Regions from separate parts of the Homo sapiens genome. Here region 2 is linked to region 1. The links come from fine-mapping of genetic effects on gene expression. A gene starts in region 1. The other region holds a variant in brackets. All regions are shown on one strand. Distances are from middle to middle.

Region 1 (10,427 bases):
GTGTCTGGGAGGAAGAGCCCCTTGGCCTCGGTTCTCCACTGTCAATGGCATCCAAGCCATTCCCCTTTCCCTTTGTCTCCAAAAGACATGACCCCTCCCAGCTCTCCCTGTTTTATTCCAATGGAAACGACGGGGAGCTTTGGGGGAACAACTTGGAGGATAGGCCTTTTTGAGGGTCTAGTTTGGGCCTGGTGAGAGTACGGGTCCCTGGCATTGTCACCTAGAGACTCCAGGAAAAGGGGGTCTGTCACTGGGTCCCCACCCAGTTACCTCTGCATGAGCTGTGGAACAGGCATCTCTCCTCTCCTGTCGGGTGGGGTGGTTCCCAGCAGAGTCCTCTCAGGGGTCCCAGGGCCATGGAGAATGTGACACACCGGGATGGCCTAGTCCAAGTGTGCTCTGGCACAACCAGGGGATCATGTCCAGGAGCTACAGCTGAAGAATGTTCCCCGCACCCCAGGCCTTTGTGCCTGCTGGACCACCCTGGTGGCGTGCCTTTTCCCTGATTTCTACCTGTGCTTCAAAACCCAACCAAGACCCATCTCTTCTATTCCTGTCTCCTCTCCCCAGACTGAAATGACATTAGAGGCAAGGCCCAAATCTTTTCCCTCTATCCTCAGACTAGGTGCTCCCAAGAGCAGATCTGAGACTGCGTGTCTCATAGGTGGGCACACAGCAGACCCTGGCTGCAGGCTGAGAACTCAGCAAGTCCCAATAAAGCAGGAGCCAGTGGCTGGAAGGAGCCAGCCTGACTGCTCACTGCAAAGTGGAGAAGCTGGAATGGGTTTGCCCGGGAACACAGGAGGAGGGGAGAAGGCCCTCCACCATGTATTCAGCCCTTACTATAAGCCAGACTCAGCCACACTTCACATCTTTGTCTCTCTGCAAGATTGGCATTGCTGTTCCTACTGTACAGATGAGAAGACCGAGGCTCTGGGAGGGCTGGTGACTTGCTCAAGTTCACTCTGTGCACGAGTTAGAGCTGGGCTTTGAAGCTCTGTGTGTATCTAATGTTAGTCCTGCTCTCCTTTCACTCTGAGAGGCTGAGGAGGCAGGAGGTGGAGCTGGGGCAAGGACCAAGGGTCCCCCAGGCACAGAAAGGAGAGGGTGGCACACACAGGCCTGCCTACATGCCTGCTCTATGCTGGTCCTATCCACTGGCATCCCAGCAGCTCGCAGGGTTTTACGATGATGATTATTTCTGAAGGCACTTGAAATTAATGACGGCTCTAAAATGGCTGGGACAGCAGAGTCATTGCTGAGACCTCTAATTAGCAAGAAAAACGGAGACCAGGAGCCTTGGAGGTGAGTGGGGGTTGGGCAGCTGGCATTGGGCATGGAGCAGGGCTGGGGGAGTGAGGTGGAGCCAGCATCCAGCTGGGGGGCCCTGTGGAGCTGGGTGCTCAGGTGGACCCCGTGTTCTACTTTATGCCACAAGTTAACTTGTTAACTTGCTGTGTGACCTTGAGGGGGTCACAGCCACTCCCTGGGCCAAAGTTTCCCCAGCTATGCAATGAGAGGTTGCCCTGGGGGGGTCTCTAAGCTCAGGGCTCCTTGGACGACCCTGATCCCCTAAAAGGCTGAAGTCCAGAAGGTGGGGGCCATGTAGCCTCCAGAAGCCACCACAGAGACCCACAGCCCTCCATGATGGGGTTGCTGAGGCCGCTGTGTAATGAAGTACTAGGCTAGAGTGAAGTGGATTGAGAAGTGGCAGAAAATCCATAGGTCAGGCCCTGCGCTGGTGCACTGTGGAGGCCAGACAGGGATGGAGGCACCTGAGGGGGCTAGCGGGACAGTCCCTTCTTGGAGGTGGTCCTGGAGATGTGGCTCGGTATAGAGCCTTCCTGCCCCCTCCTGACCCCCTCCTCAAGAGTCAGAGCAGACTTGGGGACACCAGCTTCCCATGTAAGCATGTCACAAAGGGTCAGGCCTGAGTATCTTAAAGGAAAGTCCCTCATCCAGTGCTGCCCAAGTCTGGATCCTCCACATCCTGCATGGGGCAGCCAACATGGGGAAGGCACAGGGGCTCACCTGGAGGGGTTCTCTCCCCACAGTGGCTGGCCCAAGTTGGTGTGGAGATATGCAGGTTCCCAGGGAACATCCATGGTGGGTGCAGGCTGAGGCCAAGACTCAAGGGCAAGGGTGTGTGGGAGGCCCACCCCCGTTAACTGGGGCATCCTCTTCCCTGGCATTTACTTCATGCTTGTCTTGTCATCGATAGCTTTCTCAGCCCCTCAAATCCTCTCCCCTTCCAGTTCAGGTCCCTGTGTGTCCCCCTCCTTCCAAAAACCTGCTGAGAACCTCACCTTCCCCTCGGGCGGGGCTGTATGTCCCTGGACACCTTCCTGAGTCTCAGTTTCCTCCTCTGTAAGATAATGTCGGTTTCACGGGGTGGTGTGAGGGTCTCATGGCTTAACGTGTGGCTGGTATCTACCTGATGCTGATGTAGTAGGAGCTTGATAAATGCAGGTATTTTTAGGTGATCATACTGACTGTCATGGTCACTGGCTGCCTCCTGACCCCTTCTCTTTAAAGTCAGGGCTCTAGCCTAAGGTCCCTTTCAGCATTCCCACTCGGAGACACCTGGACCACATTCTCTGTCGCCTGAGAATCAGGAACACCCTGAGGGCTTGGATTCATCTTGTCTCCTCCAGTTTCCACAGCCAGCCCACAGCCCTGATTCCAGAGGGTCTGATGTCTACAAATTACACCTGACTGAAGTCTCTTAATCAGGAAGGCCCAGTAGATTCCCCTAGAGAGGAGGGCCAGGGCATGGGGGCAGGGACACTCTTGAATCCATACTTCTTACTCCCTCTCACCATGGGGCACCCATGCCTCCAAGGAAATGTTTCAGCACCAGTGACAGGTCACTTGTCTAGAAGCAACGTAGTCAGCAGCCTCCCCTACTGGGAATCTCACTGGGAATCCGGGGAAGCCCAAAGGCTCTTGGAGAACTCAAGACAGAAGCCCTGGCAGAGAAATGAGGTCTGGGCCTGGCCCCCACTCAGTGCTGCCACGGCCCTTCTGCACTGGGTGGCCTGGCTGCTGTGTCTACAGTGGCTGAGAAGCAAGAAATTGGTCTGGGGCCAGTCCGTAAAGGGCCCCTCAGCACTACCCCCGCCGAAGTTCCCCCCAGGAAAACACCCAGTGTTCCTGACCTTGAGTTACTGTGGGATGCAGTTAGCTGTTCTTAAGAAGTCAAGGAAGTGTGCACTCCTTTAAAAAAAATTAGATTAGGAGCAAAAACAAAAAAACAAATAGAAAATGTAAGATCACTCCCTGGCTCCATGGGAACTTGGGCTCTGTGCTTGGCAGAGAGGCTCCTCCTGAGAGCCTGGCTCGGCTGTCCCCATGGATCATGTCAGGGGGAATTTGAGCTAATGTGTGCAAACAGGCAGCACTATTAGCAAATCCATTCATTAAGCGCTTGCCTTAAGTTCTGTTGTGCAGGAGACTTGTTTATTAACTTAAGTCGGAGCCTGTTATTAAGTCAAAGGCAGCATAGTGGCTCGAAAGGTGCCCAGCATCAGGGCCAGGCAGTCTTGGGTTCCAGTTCTGACTCTGTCTCTGACTCCTGTGTCACCCTAGGCAAGTCACTTTACCTCTCTGAGTCTCAGTTGCCCAGTGATAGGCAGCCCCTAAGAGGACTCCCAGTGGTCCCTGCCTTCTGGTATTGCCCTGCTTGTGTAATCCCCTCCCCTTCAGTGTGGGCTGGATCAGTGGACCCACTTTTAGTGAACAGAATACGGCAGAAGTGACACAATGTCACTTGTGAGATTAGATTACAAAACAACTGTGGTTTCCATCTTGGGTACCTTTTCTCGATCACTTGCTTTTTGCTATGAGGAGGGCCAGTTGCCATGTTACGAGAAGCCCACATAGAAAGGAACTGATGTCTCTAGTCAACCCCCCATGAGGCCCTGGGACCTTCCAATCGCCACTTGAGTGAGCTTGGAAACAGCTCCTCTTTGAGTTGAGCCTTGAGATGACTGAAGCTCCGGCTGATGTCTAGATGGGAGCCTTGTGAGAGGCCCTGAGCTAGAGGTACCCAGCTAAGCCTCACCTGGATTCCCAACTTACTGAAACTGGGAGGTAATACATATTTGCTGTTTTAAGCTAAGTTTTGGAGTGATTTGTTATGCAGCAATAGATAATTAAACTCATGCTCCATCTGTAAAATGGGTATAGTAACTCCTTTCTCCCAGTGTGGCGAGGGTATTGAGATAAGGCAGGCAAAGTGTCTGCTCTCAAGGGGGGCAAGGAATGGCCCGGCAACTTGGTGGTTATCCAGTAAAGGTGGAAAGACGCACACCCTACGACCCAGCAGTTCCCCGAGGCATGAGCACACGAGGGCAAGCAGAGGAGCGCGCATGGCAGGATTGTTATAGCGAAAAACAGGAAATGGCCTAAGTGCCCATCATTGGGAAAAGGAATGTACAGAACACGGTACATTCGCACAATGGAATACTATGCAGCAGTGAAAACAGCTATGTTGGAGTTACTTGCATCAGCATAGGTGATCTCATAAACACGATGTGGAGGAAAAAACATATGTACAAGGTATACCATTTATCTCAAGTTTAAAAACAAGCCCCAAGCCCTATAAACTGAATATGGATACCTACAAATATAGGAAAAGTATTAAAACACGCAGGACAGTGATTAACACCAATTCCAGAGGACTGTCACCTCTAGGGAGAGAGAAGGGGAGGTGGCAGAGTCAGGCCTATCCTGATCCCCACACTTTGAACCCCACACCATGAGCAGCACGGTGGTTCTAAGTGTGTTATCCACTCACTCAGCAACCCGCTCAATCCTCTCAGCAACGCTATGGGCTCCCTTCTATTACTATCTCATCTTACAGTGGGGAAACTGAGGCACACAGAATCCAGGGAGATATTCCTGGGCTTTCCAGCCTAGCAGGAAGCCAGGACTTGGTTCCTCACTCTGTCATTAACTTGGAGGAGTCCACATTATCTCCCTGGCCTCAGTTTATTTTTCTGTGACTTGGGAGACACTCACTCCTTTCCCTAGATAGGTGTGGCTTGAGAGACTCGCAAAGTCTTGATTAATCAACCTGGAATATTTGCAGAGACCCTGTGAGCCAAGCCTGGTCCCAGCTACATGGCAGGGGAGACTAAAAACAAGGAAGTGTGGACGAGAGAAGGCGTAAATAAGACAATTCAATCCAACGTAATTCAGTATGGTTCAATTTCACATGGGCTCAAATCACGGACAGACAACGGGTGAGGTTAAGGATATTACTTGAGCACCTCTGGCATGCTAGGCCACATACTAGGTGCTTTTACAAATTATATAAGCCTCAATCACACCCTGTAAAGTAGGGACTGTTATTATCCTCATTTAGCAGTTAGGAAACAGGATCAGGGAGGGTGAGCAACTTCCCCAGGTCACACTGACAGCTGAGATTGTCAGGATGTACCCTCCCTCCATTCTGACCTGTCCTCTGTTTGGTGTTGGGGACATAGACGGAGACCAGGCCTTGGTGCCCACTGGGGAATCTCAGCACAGACCAGGAGAGTCTGGAGGAGTCCAGAGGAGGTGGAGCAAACAGGAGAGGCTTCCTGGGGGAGGAGGGTGAAGGCGAATGCTTCAGTGGGCTCATTGGTGGTGAGACAGGTGGAGGCATCCATCCATTCATCTCCTCATTCATTCATTCATTCATTCATTCATTCATTCATCAAATGCCAAACATTTGCCACAGTTTTCTCTAGGCTCCAAAGCCCATGGTCTGGCAGGCAAGACTCAACCTAGTGTGATCCAGGCTGAGGTGGGAGAAGTGGGGGTGGGGCTGCACACACACAGCAGGCAGGTCAGACATCCAGAAGGAAGCAATGGCTGAGCTGAAATCAAAGGATGAGTTGGGATCAGTCAGGTACACGGAAGGTAGAGGCTGGTGCTCCAGGCAGAACAGCAGGTGCAAAGGCTGGGCCCTGGGATGGAGGGGAGAGACAGCCAGCCCTGAGGAAGGCCGCTGCTGGCCAAGGAGGTGCCAGCTCAGCTGAGAGTGGGGTGCGAGGCTGAGGCTGCCACCACCTCTCGCCCAGGTAGGGTGGCTGCCTGCCTTCTTCTCCAGCTGATGGGTCCCCATGCCATCTCAGCCCTGTTGGGTAGGCTGGGTCCCTCTCCAGAGAGATTAAGAGCAGGGGAGTTTGAACCATAACGGTGCATGTAATTATGTGCAAAAACGAAGGAGGGCTCCTTAATAATTGATGGTGGGAGAGAGTAAATATCAGCAGAGGCACCCAGCTGCATCACCCCGGCCCGTCTGGCTGGGACCCAGGGCGGCTGCTTGTCCACTAATATGCCTATAAATTATTGAAGTTATAAAGAAGAAAGCAGGTGTCATGTCGCACCCATAAACAGCTTGTTAGCTAAGACTAACGAAGGGGCGGCCGGCCTCTTGGCACTGCATGGGCTCCCCCTACACCCTCCCCAATTACAGAAGGAGACAGATGAGGAGTGGGCGTGGTAGGAGGCTGAGAGCCTGACTGGCCCCACACCCCGTCTCCCACCATCTTGACCCACTGTGGAGTCAGGTGGTGCTGGGAGAGAGAAGAGGCCCAGAGACACAGAGAGCCAGAAACGGGGCTGTGGCTGTCCCAGCACTGTGGGTTCAGATAGCAGCTGGACAAACCTGCGACAGAGGATGTCAGAGGTCCTGCCCAGCCTGATAGGCTGAGGCCAGCTGGGATGCTGGGAAGAACTAGACACTGGGGTCAGACACTCAGGGTGCACATCCCAGGGAAGCCACCTGTTGGCGGAGTGGTCTTGGGTAAGTCACCTGCCCTCTCTGAGCCGCTTTCCATTCATGCCACCTGGGGATACTCATGCCTATCTTGGAGGGTTGTGGGAAGGGTTCTAAGAGCATATGCGTGTGACATTTCTTGTGGACAGTAGGCCCTCATAAATGGGGCGCTCCTCCACCTCTGCCTTCCACCCCCATATCTCAGGGGCTCCTAATTAGATCAGGCCTAATGAGGCTTCCGTCTGCCTGGCTGTTTACGCTCCATTAAGACCTGAGTCCAGGACAGCAGTGGGAGGGGAGACAGCTGCGGAGGGGGAAGGTGTCCAGTTGCCAGGGCTTGGTTCATCCTAGGCTTCACCATGCATGGGGGACCCCCACCCCCAGGGAGTGGAGGAGGGAAACAGAGGCAGGCCTCTCGAGTCAGAGCTGCCAACAGGGAGAGGCCCCATGGTGTGGGGAGAGGGAGAAAGGAGGATAGAAAGAACAGCTGGGAAGGTTGGCATTTTGGCTCCTCTATGTGAAGAGCTTGGAAGGCCACTTCCCCTCAGGCTGGGGGTCTGCAGTCTCTGAGATGTTCCCTTCCAGGCAGCCTAATTTGGACACTTAGGTGCCCATGGAGTGCTCAGCTCTGCCAAGGGCCACACGAAGGCCAGGAGGGCAGTCTGGGCCTAGGGAAGGTGCCCCTCTCCCCAACCTGGCCCTAGGAAGCCCTTCAGAGCCCCCATAGTCTGCTCCATACCACACAGGGAGCAAGGCTGGGACCGGCACTTGGGCTTGGGCAGCAGACAGGTTCATCTCCGGGTCCGGAAATCCCCCAGCAGGGCATTACTTCTGCAAGTGCTTCCCTTCTCCCAGAGGAAAAGAGGGAATCCCGAAAATTCTTATCAAATACGCTTTGAGCCTCTTCTCCCAGGGGTCCTCTCTGCACCCCTTATCTCACTTGTGCAGCCTTGGTCTATCCCGCTGAGGCCTCTTTGCAGATGCACAGAGAGGTGCCTTAGCTGCCTGAGGCCATGCAGCGAGTCAGCAAGGAAGCTTGTGGAGCCTGGGCTTGGTGCCTCTCCCCACACCACTGGACTTAGCTCTGGGAGGAGACAGAGACTCACACACAGCGCACTCTCTGACAGCCACTGTGGTGTGGTGGTGTGGCATTCCCAGGAGCTCTCTTTCTGCCCAAGAACTCCCCGTGCCCTGGACACCTGCCTGTCTGTCACCCGCTTATCAGGGTGAGGGCAGCTGGGGCTGGCACTTACAGTATCAGTCAGGGCAGCCTGGTCAGATAGGGGATGGAGATGTCTTTCAGGTCCCCTGGATGGTGCTGGGAGCAGGACGGCTGTGTGGGCTGGACTAGGCAGGAGAGCAGGGCTGTCCACAGGATCAGGGGAGACCCAGGGCCCTGGGGCAGGACTGGGGACAGAGGCAAACCTCAGGGTAGGGAGGTCCGCAGTGGGAAGGGCCCTCTCCCCTCCCCGTCTAGGTCAGACCTTGAGAAGGGCTGCTGGGACACCAGCAATGGTCCGGTTACAGGGAGGGGCTGAGAGGCCCATGGGGCATCGGGGTTGGATGGCGGGAGGGAAAGCTGGGAGCCTCAGGCCTACAGAGCTTCCGCAGGGGCTCTCCTGGCTCCTTGGCCTGCCACCCCCTTCCCTGCCATTCTCGGGCATGCCATGCCTTTGGTTATGGGCAAAGTGTCTGAGAAACTCCCTCATCACAGGGGTGGCATGGAGGTGGGGGTACTGCAGGTGGCCACCCCAGCACCATGGTTCAGGGCTTAACCCCCAGAGGGCAGCACCCACAGCCCTGGCCCAGGGGCAGCAAACCCAAGGGAAAGCTTCCTTCCCGAGTCTGGTGCCACCTCCAGGGAGGACACTTTTCATTCCCACCTCTTCCTGCTCCAGCATGGGAAAGGGCAGGGGGTGACAGCTGTAAACAGGGAAATGGGGGTGGGGGTGCAATGGCTCAAGGACCTCCTGAAATGTGGACTCCTCTGGGCAGAGCACTTGGCCAAGTCCCTCCCCGCTCCGCCCTCATTCCTGAATGTGGCACCTGCTCCAAAGAGTGGTGAGGACACGCTGGGAGAATCCATCAGAGCCACGGGGCAGGGCCCGGCACTCAGGAGCCCTCCAGGGGAGAGTCCTTGTGACCGTGAATCTAGCTGGGGCAGCGGCATCTGCTTTGCGAATGTATCTACGCTGGGGAGTTTAGGAAGGATACGTAGCTGTGTTGTGTTGTCGAACTCTGTGGTATGTGTCATGTTGAACATGTGTGTGGTGTCTCTGTCGTGTGTGTCAGGGTAGGTGTCCCGAGCAGAACTTTTCTGCAGCTCCTTCACCAGTCCACAGGCAAAAGCCCCCATTCAGGGTTGCCCAGCTGTGCCGGAGGAGCCACAGCTGTACCCGGGCTGTGCCCTCTCTCTCTATCCCTTCTCTGCCCAGGCCATCCTGGAAGCACAACCCCCTCAACATGGCTGCCCTGAGCCTGCACGGGAGGTGGTCGAGGAGGGGTACCCTGGTTCCAGGGGTCCCCAAACAGGCTTGAGCATCTACCTGCTTCTTCTGAGCCCACCCTGTGGTATTTCCGTCACCTGGGAAATAAGGATGGCATTGGTGGAGGTGCTAGCAATACCAGGAGAGCAAGACAGAGCCCAGGATGTGGACCCAGAATATGACAGGAAATGGGCCCCAGAGCAGAGCTAAGCCCAGGGGCAGGCTGAGCCCGGGTCAGCCTCTCACTGGCCACTTCGGAAGCTGAGGGACACAGCACTGGCTGGCTCCCTCAATCCCTCCAGCAAACACAGAAGTGGCTGCTGTGCCCATTTGACAGACGAGAAAACTGGGGCTAAGAGGGGTGAGGTAAGTTGCACTGGTGGAGCCAGGACCAGCGGCCAGGCCTGGCCCTGGTGACGAGCGGTTTAGGGTTGGATAAAGGGCCACTGGGTGGGCTCTCCTCTATGGGATAAACAATGTGGCTCAGGCCAGCAGCCCGAGAGGCGGAGAGATCTAGAAGGCCCCAGACGATAGGAGGGCTCCCCACACTCTTAAATCAAAACATGGGCGTTTACACTCAGACACAGTGTGTTCACACCACCTGCTGGGGCGTGAAAACCAGCCATAAATACCTGCATGGTGGTGGTGGCTCATCAGGAGTGGGGAGAGAGGCCTGGTGCGCTTTCAGGAAGTTCCCAGTGACTCACAGGCTGTGGACCCCTCTCTGCACTTCCAGACACCCCTCCTCCCAAACATACACACTCAGAACGGGCGGTGCAGGGAGCAGTGCCCATCCATTCCCAACACCAGGGGCTGAGGGCACTGGGAGGAAGGAGCCCTGGCCAGCCAGCTTGTAGGGACTCCACACATCACAGCCCAAGACGCTGGGACAGCAGGCCCCAGGGCCCACAGTGGGGTGGGTGGGATAGGGTGGAGGCATGGCCCTGAGGCCCACTCTTTATCACTGCCTCTCTCCCAAGAGCTACCCAGACCACTCAGTAGACCAGTGCCCAGCTCTCTTTCTAGGCTTAAACTTGGCAGCAGAGTCCCATTTACTTAACGTGCTGAAGGTAGAGCGAGGTGGACGTGCACGCCTCATGGCTAAAGATAAATGCCAGCTAATGCCTGAAGTGTGGAAAACATCGTGAACAAATTCAGGGCTACTGTGTTCA
Region 2 (10,427 bases), 240 kb after region 1:
CTAGGGCGTGGCTTTGCCCGTTTGGATTGTCTGAGACACCAGTGGGGCCACCCCAATGCTGTCCGAGCTTTGTTTGCCAGGCAAGTTTGGGGTGAGTATGTTGGGGTCCAAAGGGACCCGGCGACAGTGAGAAGTGGGTCCTCCAGCTTCAGATGCCCTGGGCCAGGAACGGGGAGTGCTACAAGGTGGGAAACGAGGAAGGAGCCACCCTGCCCTCCCCTGTGAGGAGCACCCCCACACCCCTCCAGCTGCCCCCCAGCTCTGCCCCTTCTCTCCTCCCCTTGCTTCCTTGCAGATCCATCTATCTGCCACCTCCCCTCTTCATTCTCTCCTCTCCCTCCTCCTGTTGGTGACAGGCAGGACCCCCCACCCACTACCCACTCTCAGCCTCCTAGAGGGAGAGCTGGTGCCCCTCAGCGGGGCTTGTCCTACAGATAGCTCTGGACCACCCCCTGCCACACCTCCTCATCCCAGCACTGATGCCTGACCCAGCAGAGGCTGAATGGAAGTTCGCTTTCAGAGAAGTGCTGGGATATATCCCCTCTCTGTCCCGATGCCAGAAACCCCAACATGACAGCATTCTTCCTTCAGCGAAGGCAGCTCTAGTTATGCCATAAGAACTGCAGCCTTAGGGCCCATCCATCATCACTACCCATGTGTGATTCAGTGCTTCAGCTACACCTTCGAGATCATTCCCAAGAGCAGCATGGAGCAAAGGCAGGGCCTGAGCCTCCTTCACAAGGGCCCAGGCTACACCCTTCTCTCCTTCAGATGGAGAAGCCAGCTCTAAAAGAGGGCATCACATGGTTCCCAGAAGGGAAGTGAGTCAAGGGAGGACCCCCGCGGGGTGAATCAGGGCTGGATCCCCAGGCTCCCTGTTCCTGCAGGGACCAGATCCCCTAAGATCTCAGGGCCTGAGGGATGGGCTGGGCCGCCAGGGAGATGGGAAGGGAGCATCCAAGGTGACCAGGGTGGTCAGCTCATTCAGGCCCCAGCCTCCAGCCAAGGAGGGATTCCAGTACCCCCACCTCCTTGGGCTTCAACTGAGAGCCATTCTCAAATACCTTCTTAGCCCTGACAGCATGCAGGCATGGTGCTAGGCTCGCAGGGGCACGGGAAATTGAGAGGCTGAACTGAGACTCATTCAGGAGGCAGAAAGGCAAATTAAATCTCAAACAGCAAAAATCTGGATGAAAAGTACAGAGGGGAGAAAAGCAGGGGCAAGCTGGGGCAGGACACAGGGTGGGCCTCAAACCAAGCCTTGGTGGATGGGAAGGGAGTCAGTCCTCCAGGCAGGGGCGCTGACTCAGAGGCACCAAGGTGGGTGTAAGCAGAGGGGTGTTGAGACAGGAAGGCCAGCAGCCTGGCTGGGAGGCATATTTCGAGCACAGGCCAGGGAGAACCACTGGGCTGGGGCACAGAAGCCTTAAATGGCAAAATGAAGCCCACGGCCTTATGCCCTGTTGGCAAAGGAGATGCCACAAGGGTTTTAGGGCAAGAGAGCAGCATGGTGCTGTGGGGTTTTATAAAGTTACACCATCCCCTGCCTTTAGGAGGACTCGGAAATGAGGAGGGGCTGTGAGAGCTCCCGTCCAGCAACCCATCTCTGTCACCACTCCTGGTCCAGCTGCCTGCCCTGATTTCTGCAGTAGGGGCAGCCCCTGCCTGAGGAAGGCGTCCCTCCCACCCCTCCCGGATGCCCCTGGCTGCAAAGGCCCTCGTCCTCCCGTATCCGAATGAGGCGTGCTGGGAGGCTCTCCCTCTACTCATCAACATTTGAGGCATCCGGGTCAGGGGGCCTGGCAGTCAGCAACCTAGAGGCCATCTGGGCCAATCTTCCACTTGTATAGAGAGGGAAACTGAGGCCCCAGAGAGGAAGAAAAGTACTCTGAGTTCCACCAAGAACCCCAGCAGCCCAGGAAGAGCCTCCAGCCCTGCTTCGAGGGTGCTCCCAGCCTGCGTCGGGGCCTAGGCTTGGGCCACTGAGACAGTGTGGGTGACAGATGCGGTGTCCACCTCCTTCTGAGCTGTATGGGAGGCCCCAGCAGAGAGCCAAGCATTGGGGAGATTGGATTTGAGCTGATACTGGAAGGACAGGCAGAGAAGGAAGGAGGTGACATTCTAGTCGGGGGGTCACAGTGAGCACAGGGCAGGCAGGGGTGGTGGCTCCCACACTTCTTCCCTGGCATCGCTGACTGAAAGGCAGAATGTGAGGGGTTGAAGTGGGACCCAGGTGGGGGAGTACCTGGCAGGGAGGGCTTGTGTGTTACCTGAGTGGGGACTCAGAACTGATGGGGGTATCTTAGTGAGCAGGGCCACAGGGACACCAGGTACAAGAAATTGAAGCAGGGTAGATCCTGCTGCCTCTGAGGATGGCTTGGGGGGACCGATGGTGCTCGGGACAGGCACTGAGCCTTGTGTGCACCTTGTGTGCCACCCCAGGCCTCCGGAGCAGGGCAGGGCCCAGGGGCCAGAGCCCTTGGCCCAGCCCACCCGGACTCGAGAAAAACTGTTCTAGAGCAAGTGTAACGGAGCCTCCCTCCCTACGCCTGCCCGCCCGGGCAGGACAAGAAGGGCCTTTTAGTGCTGCCCGCCTGGGGGGCCTGGGGTGGGCCATGCCAGGTGGGCCAGGCGGCTGTCGATGATGGCAGGAGGGGAGTGGGGTGCGTGTGGAGCTCGCGGAGGAAGTGTATAGGCTGTGTCTGGGAACTGGGAGTGCTGCCCAGGACGGGTGGGCAGGGGAGGGGGAGTTGGAAATAGCCCTGACATCCACACTTACTGGCGCACACAGATGTGGGCACACACACTTGCACACGGCCACTCTCACAGACCTGGACGAGCATGGCTACTGCCTCTGTCTCCAAGTCCCCTACCTTAAAGATCTGGGCCAGTGGCGCTTGCGAGGAAGGAAGTGAGCACAGGATGGGGACGGGGTGCCACCCTGAGCTGTGTCTTCTATTCAAGGCCAGGAGAAAATGAACAGGGGCTTGTGGGTCTGGGACTAGAGATTGGCCCCTCCCTGGTCCCTCTGCTCCTTCATCGCCTTTCTCCCGGACTCCTGCCCCATCCAGCTCTCCTCTCGCCTCCAACATGCCCTCCGCCCCAGCATATGTCAGTTCAATAGAGCATTCCAGAGTTAAGACTCTTCCTCCAGCTGCAAGCTTAAGACAGGTTTCAAATTTACTGTTTTACCATTCCTACTGAGTTTGTATGAGGAATTTTTAAATGAACTGAATTTGTATGAACAATTTTGTACTTGGCTCCTCCATGGGGCAAGGGTATCTAGCTCTCTCCACTTCTCAGGAGGGTCCGTAACTCCAAACAGGAGAGGACAAAGCTGTCTTATTGCTGTGCTTGCACTAGAGGTACGAGCTGGGTGTCCCATGTCCCAGGGTGTGCACTAACCATGTTGTTAGTCCTGCAGCCCCACAGCAGCCCTGCCGGTCAGGAAACAGTCACTGCAGCCTCAACCTCCCAGGCTCAAGCGATCTCCCCACCTCCGCCTTCTGAGTAGCTGGGACTTCAGGCATGTGCCACCACACCAGGGTAATTATTTTTTGTAGCGACAAGGTCTCACGATGTTGCCCAGGCTGGTCTCGAACTCCTCGGCTCAAGCAAGCCTCCCACCTGGGCCTCCCAAAGTGCTGGGATTACAGGTGTGAGCCACCATACCTGTCCAACATTCCCATTTTACAGATGAGGAAACTGAGGCTCAGAGAAAAGCAGGGACTGCCTCAGGTCTCTCTTTGGGCACACAGGCCGTGGTATTCTCACTCACTCCAACAGCAACAAGCTTCCCTACATCAAGCCAGGTGGACAACCACCCACCAGTGGGCTCGGGCCCCAGCAGGGGAAAGAGAGAGGTCTGCAGGGACAGACAGCTCGCTGAGGACTCCAGATGTTTGTTCTGTCTCCCCATCCCCCACCAGCCAGCGTTCTCTCCCTTTCCAAACCCTCCCCACTTTCTCACAGCCTAAGCAAATCCCCTTCAAAAAACCCTCTCCCCCCAAAGCTAGGGTTGCCAATGAAGCCACTTTTGTCTCTGATGTAGGGTGATAGCTGTAGGGCTGCTGTCAAGGTGGCCTGGTGGCAGGGGTGGGCCCCATCAGGGACAGTGCCTGTCCTGTTGAGCATTCCTGCCTCTCGCTCAGCTCCTTCCCACACCCAGGCCGGCTCCCAGCCTGTGGAGGAG[G/C]CCGCTGGCTCTGCCAGCCCTGGCATGCATGCGTTAGCCAGGCCTCCAGCCATCGCTCCTGCTTCAACACTTCAGTGTGTGGCTCTCCTGCGGCCTAAGGTTGAGGTGTGTCAGTGACGCTGCCTCCCTTCCCGGAACTTACTGCAGAAACCCCTGACCCCAGACCAGCCCCCCATGGATCCTGGGGAAACCCGGGCTCAGACAGAGGAGCCTGCTTGTTCAGAGTCACACAGTGAGTCCTCAGGAGATTAGGGGGAGGGCTCCCTACTCTTTGGCCCTGGTTTGGGAGGTAGCTTCACCCTCAGGACCAGCAGCTCCCCGGGAGCACACATCCCACCTGCTTTGCTCAGGGGTCTCCCCCATTGTAGGGCTCACAGCCTGGCCCCCAGAGGGGTGTAGAGATCACTGAGCCAACCAGGGATTTTCTGACTGCGCTCCAGCGCACCCCAGGGCTCTCCAGCTGAGCCGGCCTGGAGACAGCTGAGCTTGGGAATATGGGACGCCTGCCCCACCCCAATTCATGCAGAGCCACTCCACAAACCTGTTTATAGATTGGGTTCCATGAAGATTGGTACTAAGGGTCCTTGGAAGATGTCCTTCCCCAAGTCTGGGAGCCTGGAGGCCGGGAGCAGAAGGCAGTCCCAGCTTCCTCACAGCAGGCCTGGGGCTGCGTGGCCTCTCCTGCCCCAGCTTCCCACTCCTGCCCGCTGCCTGCTGGCCCTCACTCCACACTGGCTGAGTGTCCCTTATCTGAAACGTTGGGGACCTGAAGTGTTTCAGATTTCTGAATTTTTTTTGGCTTTTGGAATATTCGCTTATATATAATGAGATATTTTGAAGATGGGACCCAAATCTAAACATGAGATTGATTTATGTTTAATATACACCTTATACACATAGGCTGAAGGTAACTTTATAGATTTTTTTTAAAGAATTTTGTGCCTGAGAGAAATTTATGTTACGTTCTTACGTGTGGAGGCCAGACGCGGTGGTTCTTGCCTGTAATCCCAGCACTTTGGGAGGCTGAGGCAGGCAGGTCACCTGAGCTCAGGAGTTCGAGACCAGCCTGGCCAACACGGTGAAACCCTGTCTCTACTAAAAATACAAAAATTAGCTGGGTGTGCTTGTGACGCCTGTAATCCCAGCTACTCAGGAGACTGACGCATGAGAATCGCTTGAACCTGGGAGGCAGATGTTGCAGTGAGCTAAGATCATGTCACTGCACTCCAGCCTGGGCGACAGAGTGAGTGAGGGTTCATCTTAAAAAAAAAAAAAAGTTCTTATGTGTGAGATTTTCCACTGGTGGCATCCCATTGACACTCAAAAATTTTGGATTTAGGGACATTTGGATTTTGAATTTTCAGATTAGGGATGCTCAACTGTGTTGTGCTATGTCCTTCTCTCCCTAAATATATCATCCTCCCTGGTCAAGGTGATCCCGTGTCCCACAGACTGGCTGATCAGATAGAACTAGGCCATCAGATAATAATCCATAACCGCTGGCACCCTTCCACTTCTGCTCAAGCTGCTCCATGCAACAGGCCTTCCCTTTTCCCCCATCCTCCAAGGCTCAGCTCCAGTATCGCCACCCCCAGGAGCCTGTTCTAACCACAGATTGCTCTGAGACCCATGACCTGGATGGCCCCTCTCCTGGGGCCCTGCCCTCCATCTCTGTGGGGTTACAGGCCTTTCTTCCCCTACCCTCAGCTGGCCTCTGTCCCTGGTCCATGACTTTCTTCAGCCTGACACCCAGTAAGTGCACATGCGTATGTGTGCACACACACACTTACACATTCACACACATACACTCACACATACACATTCACACACACTCACACACACATACACACACATACACTCACACTCACATACTCTCACACTCACACACACACACACACACAGTGTTGCTCAGCAGGCAAGGAGTGTCCCTCCCCTGAGCCAGCAGCCCCAGGGAAAACCCCCCCAGAGCAGGCCCTCTGGCCTGGGCCAGTCCACTCTCTGGGGAGTCAGAGGGGGCTGGGGAGAGGAGACGAACTTCCGTTCCCATCTAAGAGCAGCCCCTTCCCCCACCCACATTTCAGGGAGGGGCAGCTATAAATACCAGTGGGACCAGGACACTGATTCCCACGACATCCACTTCTCCCTGCCCCTTCCCTGTGCACAGTGGCTGGGGCCAGACCAGCTCTCCTGCAGCTGGAGGCCAGCCAGGCAGGCCTGAGGCCTAGCCACACACACACACACACACACACACACACACACACACACACACACATACACAGACACACACATATGCAGACACACACAGAGACACAGACACACACACACATACACACACACACACACACAGAGACACAGAGACAGACACACAGACACAACACACACACAGAGACACACACATACGCACACAGACACACACAAATACGCACACAGACAGACATACACACACACATACGCACAGACACACAGACATACACACAGACACATACGCACACACAGACATACACACAGACACACACACGTGCACACAGACACACACACACACGCACACAGACACACACAGAGACACAGACACACACATACACACACAGATACACACAGACACACATGCACACACACAGAGACACACACAGACATACACACACAGACACACATAGACACAGACACACATATGCACACAGACACAGATACACACACAGACACACACAGATACACACACAGAGACATACACACACAGACACACATATACGCACACAGACACAGACACAGATACACACACGCGCGCGCGCGCGTGCACACACACACACACACACACACACACACACTCTCTTACTTCCCATCCTGGTCAAGGAAGGAGCAAATCACCCTTTTTGGGAGTCTGCGAGCAGCTAAGAGGGAGCCCCTCCCCTGCCCCTCAGCCCTGACCCAGGCCCCATCTCTCCCTCCTCTGAGTCCTGAGCTGTGGGAACCCACACAGGGAAGCAGGAGGCCAGGCACATGGTGGTGAAACACGGCATTAGAGAGCTCAGGTTGAATTCCAGCCCTAACACTCCATGCGTGACCTTGGGCAAGTGACTGTTTTTCTGAGCCTCAGTTTTCTCCTCTCTAAAATGGGGATAAATAATTTCGACCTCTTACGTCGAGGATTACGTGTGAGGATTAAGCAAGACACTTTGCCTGGAATCAATGCTCGGTGGACGTCTGCTCCTGAGGCTGCAGTCACTCTGCTATTAGCATCTTCTTCCCAGGGTGGAGTGGCCTGGTGACATGGGGACTTCTGCTTAGGAGTCTTTCAGGAAGATTCCGAGGCAAAGGCCTAGAGGAGGTGGCCCCGTGAGTCCGTGTGGGACCAAGGGACGTGGAAAAGGAGAGGTGGGCTCTGGAGAGGGTATCAGCCAGCGGCTGCCTGCCAGCCCAGGACCCTTCAGAAGGTGGGAGGGGGTGGGGGTCTGCATCTCTGTGGCTAACTGGGCTGAGGCCCACACCCCTCTCCCAGTGCTAGAAGAAGCAGGGACAGCCCCTGCCTGGCCCTCCCCAGGGCCTGTTTCTCCCAAGCCTAACAGCCCCTAGGATGGGGCTCACTGGGCCGGGGCACAGCAGGAACCCCCTGTCCCCAGAGCAGGTGAGTGAGAAGAGAATGAGCAGGTATCAGGACCTTTTATGGGACAAGGGACCCTAGAAGCCTGTCTTTTCCCTGCTCTCTACCAACCCCTCGCGAATCCCTCTCTGGAGGTGGGGGCTGGAGGCCAGGGCCCAGGGACGCAAGATAGCTCACCTGCCAGGGCCACCATGGGGCTGTTACCACCACTCATGACATAAGCAGTGGTGGCTGCATCACGAGGAGCAGAAATCCGGACTGAGGGAGGGGACAGCCCTCTCCGCTCTGGGCTGCTAGGACCCCTCAGGGGGATGGGTGTATGTGAGCTCAGAGTAGGGGGAGGTGTGGGCAGGTGACTGAGGTGACTGCAGAGTGGGGTGTGCAGCTTGGGGCTGGGACACTGGAGGGACCCCGGACAAGGGCCGGCCCGTGCCTGAGCCCTCAGGGCAAGATCCCATTGTGCAGGCCCCCACTGCCTTCACCCACGTAGAGGTGACTCTTCTCCACAGACCCCTGGACAGGGCCCAGACAGGCCCCCCACCCACATGTGCTAACAGAATCCAAGTGGCTGCCCCTGGCCGAGATTCTATCTCTGGGCATGTGGGGCCCATGTGTTTCTGGCCACCCACCTGGAGCCTGGCTGAGCCCCTCCAGGGGTGGGTACTCAGACAGGGGCTGTCCTTCCAACCGTGGACAGCCCTGGGGCCGGTGAGATATTGTAGAGACCTGAGCCAGCTGGCTGATGGTGCCACAGCCCTTGGGCTACCTGGCCCTGCTGTGTGGCCTTGGGGAGACCCTGGCCCTATCTGGGCCTCTGGGTGGAATCTTCAGTCTCCTAGGTCAGCTCTAAATTCTGAGCTTGAGCCTCTTGGGAACAGGACAGGGGCCTCTGCCTCTATCTAGAGAGAGCCAGCTGCTTGTCCTGGGCCAAGCAGCAAGGCAGGCTAGGCCTGGAATGGGGCTGAGAAGCAGCCCAGCCTGCCAGGACTCCCTGGCATTGGAAAGCCACTTTCCTAAGTTGGCATGGAGCCCTGGGGCTCCCCCCGGGATGAGAGCAGCGGCTCCTCTCCACCCCCGGTTCCCATCTTCCACCCCCTGGCCCCAGCCCCGCCCTGCCAAAAATAAACCCAGACCACCCCATCTTGTACCAGCCAGACCCACCCAGCCCCTCCAGAGCCAATTGAGTCACCACTCAGAGCTGCTCCTTTTTTAACTGTCTGAGTCACTGCTTGTGGCTCCATGACACATGCCCCAGGCTACGGTTACCCCACAGCCCCTACAAGCGCAGCCAAGGGAGGGGTCTGCGTAGAGGCTGGCAGCAGGTGTGAGTCCAGGCCATAGCCTTAGCTTGTGAGCCCTCCAGGCCTAGGGAACTCACTCCATAGCAAGCCAGAGACCAGACCTGTCCCTCAAGGTCCCGGCCGTGCCCAAGACAGCCCTTGGGGATCTTGGTGACAAGGTCAATCTGGGCTCTGCCCCACAACATTGAGTTGCCTCCAATAGGCCTTGGGCCTTCCCCGTGGAGACTGCCGGGAACGGAGGGTCTCCAGCCCCTAGACCCTGGAGGCTGGGGGTGGGCGAGGCCACAGAGACGCCTGCTTCCTCCCTCCTCACCGGCTCCACCCGGACTCTGACCACGCTGCCTGGAGCACCATGAAGACTCTATGGAACGGAAGCCACACTTCAGTCTCCCCTCACGGCTTCTGTCTGCCCCTGCGCAGGGTCACCCGGGCTGCAGAGCACCCCCGATCTCTCAGTCCATCCCCCCATCCCGCTCTCTCCATCTCTCTGTCCTTTCCCACCCCTGGCTGTGGTTCCTCCATCTCTTTCTGTCTGTCTTTCCTACCCTGTCTCTCTGTCTGTCTGCCCATCTCTCCAGTCCTGCTCTGTTCTCCTTCCCTTCTCCTTTACCGGGTTCCACGGCAGTCAGAAGTGCTCCCTGCCGCCAGCACCCCACCCGTCCCCAGGGCCCTCTCTGCCTTCTCAGTAGACATAACAGACCCTCACCTCCTCCCATTCCCACAAGGGACTCTGGGCCCCAGGGACCAATCCTGAGAAATGTTCCGCTCCCCTCACCAGGTCCTCCCGTGCCCCAAAGTGCAGGCTACATCCTGTCCCAGGGAGTGTCAGGATCCCACAGGCACTTCCTTGGGGGTTGACAAAGGCGGGCAGGGGGGCCTGGGAATGGCCCCACCTCCCAGTCCATGCTAGAGCAGGGGCCTGTAAGCCTCAAACCCCATCCGTCTTCTGTCTGTGGCTGTGGCCTCCGGCTATAAATAGGGGCTCAGATTCTATTTTCTTTAAAAACAAGCACAAGACTCTGTCATCACAGGCCCAGAAAAGCAGTTTCTGGCTGGGGCAGTCCCTCCAGCCCTCCCTGGCCATTATGTCCAGCCCCCTGCCTCTGAGCCCTGGGGCCCTGGAGAGCAGAAGAGGCCTGGAAAGGAGCCTGGAGGTAAGACAAAGTGGGGAGGGCTGGGGCGAGCTCCCAGAGGCAGCCCCTCCCTCCTTTCTTTTCACCTCCTGTCCCCAAGCAAGGTCAGTCTAGTCCCCAAGGCTCACAGTGTAAATGGAGAGAGGTGACAACAGCACAGCCCCCTGGGCCACAGCGAGTGTCTTTGCACCCCAAGGACAAAGAAG

Evidence for each region.
Region 2: its variant is fine-mapped to the expression of LINGO1-AS1 in caudate (GTEx, PIP 0.99).

The regions. Positions count from the first base shown.
Region 1 is chr15:77,635,162-77,645,588 of GRCh38, forward strand. It overlaps LINGO1-AS1 (LINGO1 antisense RNA 1), which reads left to right and starts at 6,603. Exons shown (of 3, transcript NR_045123.1): 1 at 6,603-6,796. It also overlaps a transcript of LINGO1 not described here. RefSeq lists an enhancer at 10,415-10,427.
Region 2 is chr15:77,879,016-77,889,442 of GRCh38, forward strand. It overlaps the pseudogene CSPG4P13. Among named protein-coding and RNA genes, the nearest start is that of TBC1D2B, 190 kb to the right of the region's middle. RefSeq lists enhancers at 1-410, 8,679-9,421. The variant G/C (reference allele first, on the strand shown) is at 4,193.